Regions from separate parts of the Homo sapiens genome. Here region 2 is linked to region 1. Evidence: fine-mapped expression QTL. Tissue or cell type: pancreas. Region 1 holds a variant in brackets; the other region holds the start of a gene. All regions are shown on one strand. Distances are between the middles of the regions.

The links. PIP is the estimated chance that this variant, and not a neighbour inherited with it, causes the effect.
Region 2: VPS33B starts here. The variant in region 1 is fine-mapped to the expression of VPS33B in pancreas (GTEx, PIP above 0.99).

The regions. Positions count from the first base shown.
Region 1 is chr15:90,993,407-90,997,793 of GRCh38, reverse strand. PRC1 (protein regulator of cytokinesis 1) reads left to right here and starts at 3,259. Exons shown (of 15, transcript NM_003981.4): 1 at 3,259-3,387. The coding sequence starts at 3,377. It overlaps LOC124903556 (a long non-coding RNA gene), which reads right to left and starts at 3,015. Exons shown (of 2, transcript XR_007064759.1): 1 at 2,859-3,015; 2 at 169-451. RefSeq lists enhancers at 2,219-3,085, 3,086-3,953 and a silencer at 3,503-3,722. The variant CCACCATGA/A (reference allele first, on the strand shown) is at 2,483.
Region 2 is chr15:91,020,301-91,024,478 of GRCh38, reverse strand. VPS33B (VPS33B late endosome and lysosome associated) reads left to right here and starts at 1,885. Exons shown (of 23, transcript NM_018668.5): 1 at 1,885-2,325. The coding sequence starts at 2,230. VPS33B-DT (VPS33B divergent transcript) reads right to left here and starts at 1,857. Exons shown (of 4, transcript NR_110104.1): 1 at 1,739-1,857; 2 at 508-1,166. RefSeq lists enhancers at 1,921-2,330, 2,185-2,801.

The DNA of each region.
Region 1 (4,387 bases):
ATCCCATTTGCTGACATCTCCCCTCTCTCTGTCCTTTGTTGTCATCCACTTCCAGATCTCAAGCCTTCATCTCACTCCTTAGCGCCACACAAGTATTTCCTACCTGGTCATTCCACAGGCACTTCAAACTCAGCATGTACAAAATAAACTCATGAGTGGAAGCTCCTGTCCCTACTTGAATCCTTTAATCTGCTCTTCTTCCTGTATTCCCAAACTTTGTTCAAATGAGCAAAAAATTGTATTCTTGACCTCAGATTTTTTCTTTCTATGCCCCACCTTCAGCTGGTTCCCTTGTGCTATTGGTTCTTATTTCTAAATGTCTCTAGTTCATCTTCTCCTCACCATCCCTACGACAGAGGTCTTTATTGTCTCTTGCCTGGGTTTTTGCAAGAGTGTGCCTCCCAGCTGCTCATTCTTCCATCTGTTCCCCATTCCACAGTGCTGCCACTTACTAAAAGGAAGAAAGAAAATCAAAACCTGAGTTACTGGATCATCAAAAGTATTCTTCCTATAGAATAATGATCATTCTGGGCCCCGCACGGTGGCTCACACCTGTAATCCTAGCACTTTGGGAGGCCGAGGCAGGCAAATCACTTGAGGTCAGGAGTTTGAGACCAGCTTGGCCAGCATGGTGAAACTCTGTCTCTACTAAAATATAAAAATTAGCCAGCTGTGGAGGCGCGCACCTGTAGTCCCAGCTACTCATGAGGCTGAGGTGGGAGAATCGCTTGAACCCAGGAGGCAGAGGCTGCAGTGAACCGAGATCATGCCACTGGACTCCAGCCTGGGCAACAGAGCAAGACTCTGTCTCAAAAAATAAATAAATAAATAAGAATAATGATAATTCTGTATAAGAATATATTCCAAGGAAAAGGCATTCCTCAAGCATCTAGCTAGAATTTTGAGTGTTATGTCAAGCTAGTGTGCAAGACCAAAGACACTGCCAACAGGGCTGTTAATTCACAGAAAGAATAGGTGGCATCAGAAAAAGATTAAACAGTGGCAAAACATTGCACTTCCATCCAGTAGAAATATATGACCCTGTAATAGGATTTTTTTTTTTTTTTTTTTTTTTTTTTGAGAAAGGGTCTTGCTTTGTCGTCTAGGCTGGAGTGCAGTGGCGTGACCATGCCTCACTGCAGCCTTGACCTCCTGGGCTCAAGTGATCCTCCCACCTCAGCCTCCCAAGTAGCTGGAACTACAGGCTCATACCACCACACCTGGCTAATTTTTGTATTTTTTATAGAGACAGGGTTTTGCCACAGTGCCCAGGCTAAGGTCATATATTATAAACGCGTATTACACAGTGTTTTACATGCTGCGTTTATGCTCTGAATGGATATCTTTGCATCAGTTCTATGACTTTGTTAGCCTCAGCACCTCAGTGTAAAGGACAAGAGAGAAAAAATTGCCTTTTCTTTGGATACTTCATAATGCTGGTGCTAAGAACAAGTATGAAGATCACAAATTTGTGAAGCTTTCTGAAAAGCTCTCCTGTTAATTTAATCAACAAAGAATGCAAGTAAATTTTAAAAGTAGTGCTACCATCTACTCTATTAGTGGTGTCAATGTTAATCACAGAGTGCAAGGAAATTGAAAAAGTGGTGCCTGTCGCCCACTGTGTTGGTGCTGTGAATGTTTGGCATGCTGCTGACAAGTTAAAAAGAACATGGAAGCCGGGCGCGTTGGCTCACGCCTGTAATCCCAACACTTTGGGAGGCCGAGGCAGGCGGATCACCTGAGGTCAGGAGTTCAAGACCAGCCTGGCCAACATGGCAAAACCCCGTCTCTATTAAAAATACAAAAAAAAAAAGTATCCAGGCATGGTGGTGCGTGCCTGTAGTCCCAGCTACTCGGGAAGCTGAGGCACAAGAATTGCTTGAACCCAGGTAGCGGAGGTTGCAGTGAGCTGAGATTGGGCCACTGCACTACAGCCTGGGTGACAGAGCGAGACTCCGTCTCAATTAAAAAAAGTAAAAAGAACATTGAAAGCACTAATGAAGTTTTTCTGAAAATAAGAAAAATATGGTTCTGAAGGTGAAGCAAACAAGCATCCTTTACCTTTAGGGAAAAGGCATATGAAGAGGATTCACTTAAGTTACAGTTGGCCAATAAACACGAAAAATGTGCAATTTCAATTATAATCAAGTGCCAAACAAGGAAATGCCAGTATTATTATTTTACCTACAAAATGAGCAAAGATGTTTAGAAGTACAATAGAATTCAGCCCTGCTGAGGGTAACAAAAGGAGGGTACTTTTCCGGTGAGGCTTTGTGCAGAAGGCAAATTAATAAAGGGAGCATTCAGTAATTACACCTCTAGGAATCAGCCGTACGAAAATGCAGGATGCATTTATAAATACATACATACACAAAGATTTATGTATGAAGATATTCAGCCCAGCCTTATCTTTTAAATTATCATCTAAATATCAATAGCAGAATGGGCGAGATATCTACACACCAGGATTCATGCCACCATG[CCACCATGA/A]ATCACTGGGAAAAAACGGTGATATATAAGCATTTAGGGATGTAACATGTTCATCGAGGAAAGGAGGCTACAAAAGTAATGTCTATTTTGAGTTTTAAATTTTTCATGTAACGATTTAGAAACTCATCTAATTTGATAACGTGACTTAGGCAAATCATTCAAATCTTTTTGCGTTTCCTCTGCAATGGCGATTGTGGAGGTTAAATGGGATAACTGGCGTTGAAACGTTCCAGGCCCATGAGCAGGACTCAATGTTCCTTCCCTTCCCCTTTAGTGTATGGCTTCTTACATCTGGGGAAGAGTCCCACCAAAGATCGATTCCAAGCTTCGCTTCTTGGATGAGCGAGGGAAACTAGGCGCTAACTTACCTATTCACCCCCGCGCCCGTTCCCGGCAGCCGGGACTCAGGGAAGCCAGGTAGCCGCGGTGCTCTCAACTCCCTCCCCGCCCGCGCACTTCGAATCCAAACTGCGCGGGGCGAGGCGGGGCGGCGCTCCGATGAGGTAGCTGGCTTGGGAGAGGAGTCCCTTGAGGCTGCCGCCAAGCCAGGGAAGCGGGAGGCGCAGGCCACGCCCGGCCACTCACAGACAGTGACGTCATCCCCCGCCGCCACTCCGGCGCTTCCCAGGCCCTGCTCGCGAGTCCCCACCCCGATTGCGCACCCGCGACTTCAGCCCGAGGGGCGGGGATTTTCTTGGAGCGACGGGACGCGACGCCAATCGCGACGAGGCTTCGCCCCGTGGCGCGGTTTGAAATTTTGCGGGGCTCAACGGCTCGCGGAGCGGCTACGCGGAGTGACATCGCCGGTGTTTGCGGGTGGTTGTTGCTCTCGGGGCCGTGTGGAGTAGGTCTGGACCTGGACTCACGGCTGCTTGGAGCGTCCGCCATGAGGAGAAGGTGCGGGTTGCGGGGAAATCGAGGGGACGCGGGAGGGAGCGACGCTCGTTTCGGCTGCGGGGCCTGTTCAGGGGTGCGGGACCCGTGCGGGGTCCCGGGCCTAGATCGTCACGGCAGTCGGCGCCGAGGGAGGCCGGGGGCGCTGAGGGGCAGGGTCTGGAGGCGGCGAGCCAGTGCGAGGGCCGCGGCGGTGAGACCTGACGCGCTGTCCGCCGGCGGCCGCAGGTGCCCGCAGGCTCAGACGCCCGGGTGGGAGCCGAGCGCCGGTGCCCGGACGCGGCAGGGTAGTCGAGGCCCGGGGCCCGGGGCGGCCTCCACCCAGGCGGTCAGCGCTGGCGCTCGGACCCCACCCTCCCCGCCCGCAGCGTCTCAGGTGCCGCTGCTTGGCGCAGATGACTCGTTGTAAACCTTCTGTGGTCGTGGCTTTTCTTTAAAGCTGTTAAGTTTATTTATCGTTGTTTTTCTTTGTTTTATTCTTTTTTTTTATTTTTGTGGAAACGCGGTCTATGTTGGCCAGGCTGGTCTCGAACTCCTGGCTTCAAGTAATCCTGCCACCTCGGCCTCCCAAAGTGTTGGGATTACAGGCGTGAGCCACCGTGCCCGGCCCGTTGTTTTTCTTTATATCTGGCCAGCGGTGTTAACGTTTTGTTTGAATTGGAAAGATAGCTTTGTTTCTTTGCAAGTTAAGAAACGGATTATGGAATTCTTTTCCGGTCGTTTTAATAACTTCCTAGGCGGTGTTGGGGAGGGACTGTCCGACTTGAAATCGGGACCAGACGGTGACACTGCCACTTACCAACCTTGTGACTTCCAAATATTAACTTTATTTTCTAAAAGTTGTGGATGCAGTTTTCTGATGATACAGCGTTAAATAATGTGTAGTTTTTGGTGGAACTGATTGTTCTAAGGCTTTGTAAGATTCTTCATTTCATGATCACTAATTCTGATCAGTCTTTTTAAAATGCTTGCCCTCAGAATAATGAGAATTGAGTGCCAACAT
Region 2 (4,178 bases), 27 kb before region 1:
GCCACCGTGCCTGGCCCAATCTTTTTCCTGAATGTTCCTACATCTCCCCCTGGGTTATTTTAAAGCAAATCCCAAACATATTTTAGTTTTTTTTTTTATTTTTTAAGAGACAGATCGGGCCAGGCATGGCGGCTCATGCCTACAATCCCAGCATTTTGGGAGACTGAGGCGGGAAGATCACCTGAGGTCAGGAGTTCAAGACCAGCCTGACCAACATGGAGAAACTCTGTCTCTACTAAAAATACAAAATTAGCTGGGTGCGTGGCACATGCCTGTAATCCCAGCTACTCAGGAGGCTGCAGCAGGAGAAACGCTTGAACCTGGGAGGTGGAGGTTGCAGTGAGCTGAGATCGTGCCATTGCACTCCAGCCTGAGCAACAAGAGCGAAACTCCATCTCAAAAAAAAAAGAGACAGAACATATCACTGCACTCCAGCCTGGGTGATAGATAAAGCCAGACCTTGTCTCAAAAAAAAAAAAAGAAAAGAAAAAACAAACGGTGTCTCACTCTGTTGCCCAGGCTGGGGTGCTGTAGCATGATCGTAGCGCACTGCAGCCTCAAACTCCTGGGCTCAAGTGATCCTCCTGCCTCAGCCTCCCAAGTATCGAGATTAAAGGTGCCCACCACCATGCCTGGCTATTTTTTATGTGTTGTAGTTGACCAATCTTATCTCAAACTCCTGGCCTCAAGCAACCCCCCGACCCCGACCTGGACCTCCCAAAGTGGTGGGAATTAGAGACATGAACCATTACTCCTGGCCAAATTATTTCACCTGTAAAAACTTCAGTATGTATCTCAAAGAGATAAGGACTTGTTTTTAACAGAAATACAAGCCTGTATGACATAGAAATACAAAAAATAATAATAACATAGAAATACAATACCTGGCCCAACGTTGTGGCTCACGCCTGTAATCCCAGCACTTTGGGAGGCCAAGGCAGGCGGATCACTTGAGGTCAGGAGTTCGAGATCAGCCTGGCCAACATAATGAAACCCCGTCTCTACCAAAAATACAAAAATTAGCCGGGCATGGTGGCACTCGCCTGTAATCCCAGTCTACTCGGGAGACTGAGGCAGGAGAATCTCTTGAACCTGGGGCGGCAGGGGGGTTGTGGCGCGGAGCTTGCAGTGAGCCGAGCTCCTCCACTAGGCAAAAGGGCGAGACTCTGTCAGGAAAAAAAAGAGAAGAAAAGAAATACAATACCCGAAAAGTTTTAGTAATTCCTTAAATCAGTTATCTTTGAATTATTATCCAAAAAAGATCCACACATTGAAACATTTTGTTGATACATCTCTTAAATCTCTTTTATTCTGAAGTGTTTTCCCCTCCCACATTTCCCACTTTGCCATTTTTTTGAAGACGACAGATCATTTGTCCCATATAATTTCCTACATTTTGGATATGGTTGATTTCATACCTTTGGTGTCTTAACATATTCCTGCTAATCTCTATATAGCCTATAAACTGGTAGTTAGATCTTGAGGCTTGATTAGGTTCAATTTTTGGCAATAGGTGATGCTCTGTATTTCCTATGCATCTCACCAGGAAATGATATGATGGTATGATTGATCAGAGTTGAGGTATTGTTAGCTAGCCTGATGCATTCATTATGTCTTTTTTTTTTTTTTTTTTTTTTTTTTTGAGGCAAGGTCTAGCTTTGTTGCCCAGGCTGGGGTGCAGTAGCGCGATCGCAGTTCACTGCAACCTCCGCCTCCCTGACTCGAGCGATTCTCCCACCTCAGCCTCTGGAGTGCTGCGACCCCAGGCGCCGCCACCTAATTAATAGACGCGTTGCCTCCGTTTTTCAAATGTCCCTTTCAGGACGCCGTCCCCTTCCTGGTACGCGAAGCGCTGGGAGCGAAAGGGACTTCCGGGAGATCTAGGAAGTCGCTTCTTTTTCTGGTAGAAGGCGGGGTTCTCCTCGTACGCTGCGGAGTCTCTGCGGGGTGTAGACCGGAATCCTGCTGACGGGCAGAGTGGATCAGGGAGGGAGGGTCGAGACACGGTGGCTGCAGGTCTGAGACAAGGCTGCTCCGAGGTAGTAGCTCTCTTGCCTGGAGGTGGCCATTCATTCCTGGAGTGCTGCTGAGGAGCGAGGGCCCATCTGGGGTCTCTGGAAGTCGGTGCCCAGGCCTGAAGGATAGCCCCCCTTGCGCTTCCCTGGGCTGCGGCCGGCCTTCTCAGAACGAAGGGCGTCCTTCCACCCCGCGGCGCAGGTGACCGCTGCCATGGCTTTTCCCCATCGGCCGGACGCCCCTGAGCTGCCTGACTTCTCCATGCTGAAGAGGCTGGCTCGAGACCAGCTCATCTATCTGCTGGAGCAGGTCAGTGCTTGCCTGACGCCTTTATCGCATCTACAGTTTAGCACTCATTGGATGCACATTTCTTCCTTGCCGTGCCCCTTTGATCTTGTTCTTGGCCCCTGGTATTGTCCTTGGCGCTTCCCCAGCAGGTCCAGAATGAATCCAGGGAGTAGTAAGAGCTGTTTGGAACCTGGCCAGAGAGTTAATGGAAATCACCCCCCAACCCCGCATACAGGCAAGGGAGACACCATTAGTGCCAGGCATCCCTAGGGACGGAAAGATGGTTAAGACATCTTTGCCATTAGGGATCTTACCACTCCAGTAGGAGCTGTATGAAGCACAAATTATCACACACAGGTGGTAAATGAGTGATAGAGCTAGTGTACCCGAAGAGTTCACAGTAAGTGATCATTTCTAGTTGGGGTGATGATCTAGGAGCTTCAAGGAAGTGAGTGTGAGTAATAAGCATATTTTCTTTGGAGACTAAGCATGCTCCAGGCAGATAGATTGGTAGGAGCAAAGTTGGCAAACCAGGGAAAGACAAGGCATGTAAGGGAAGACACCCATCAGCAGTTACACAGTAGCCACTGAAAAAAATTTTTTTTCCATTTGTGGCATGAGACAATACTTGATGATTCTAATAGTGATGTGTGTGGTGGCGTAAATGGGCAACAAGAAGGCCAGTTAGGAGACCGTAGATCAGACAAGAAATAAAGGCCCACACAAAATTGGTAGCAGTGGGAATGAAGGAAAGTGATGGATTTTTAAGTTATGGTGAAAGAAAACTCAAAGACTTACTGATTGGTTATAAATGTTGAAGGAGAAGCAAAAATGAGTGAGATTTTTAACCTGGGTTATTAGGAAAATAATACTGCCACTGTGATTTTAATGGATTACTTGTGTAATCATTTAGTTATTCATTTTATGTCTGTATTCCTCATTAGACTGGAAGGTGGGCAGGGATCATGTTTGTTTTGTTCAACACTACCTAGTGAGTACCTAGCTTAGAGTCAAGCACACACCATGTGCTTAATAAATATTTGTTGTATTAACATTGAATAGAAATGAGAAAAATAATTAGAAAAAGGAACAGGTTTGATGGGGGAAGTTGATTTGTTTGGGTTTGGATGGGGGAAGTTAAGATGCCCGTAAGAAATATAGCTTGTAACATCCAGCAGATAGAAATGTAGAACTGCAGCTGCATTGTGAGGACTGGAAGGAAGATGGATCAAGATGAGAACTGCAGGGCATCTTAGACCAGATTTTATTTCTATTTTATTTTATTTATTTTTTTGAGACACAGTCTCACTCCGTTGCCCAGGCTGGAGTGCAGTGGCGCGATCTTGGCTAACTGCAACCTCCACCTCCCGGGTTCAGGCGATTCTTCTGCCTCAGCCTCCCCAGTAGTTGGGATTACAGGCGCACGCTAGCCCACCTGGCTAATGTTTGTATTTTTAGTAGAGATAGGGTTTCACCATGTTGGCCAGGCTGGTCTCAAACTCCTGACCTCAGGTAATCTGCCCGTCCCAGCCTCCCAAAGTGCTGGGATTATAGGCTTGAGCTACCACTCCCGGCTTCTTTCTCTTTAATACTTAGTGCTTGCACAGTGACATGCACATAAAAGACTTGCAACAATGTCTGAAGAATTTAAAAGAGGTGCTAGTTAAAGCCACTAGTTCAGGTGAGATCAAGTAGAGGAGACCAAGAAGAGAAACTTGAGCCCACTGGGTGATTCAGCATGGCCAAAGTGGATTTCCAGGCAATAACGTCCTCTCCTAACTAACTTCTGACTTAATTTTTGTTAATGTGCACTGCTATTCAGCTTGAAATATCAGAATCATCTTTGCCTCTCCTTCACCCTGATACTTAACTGA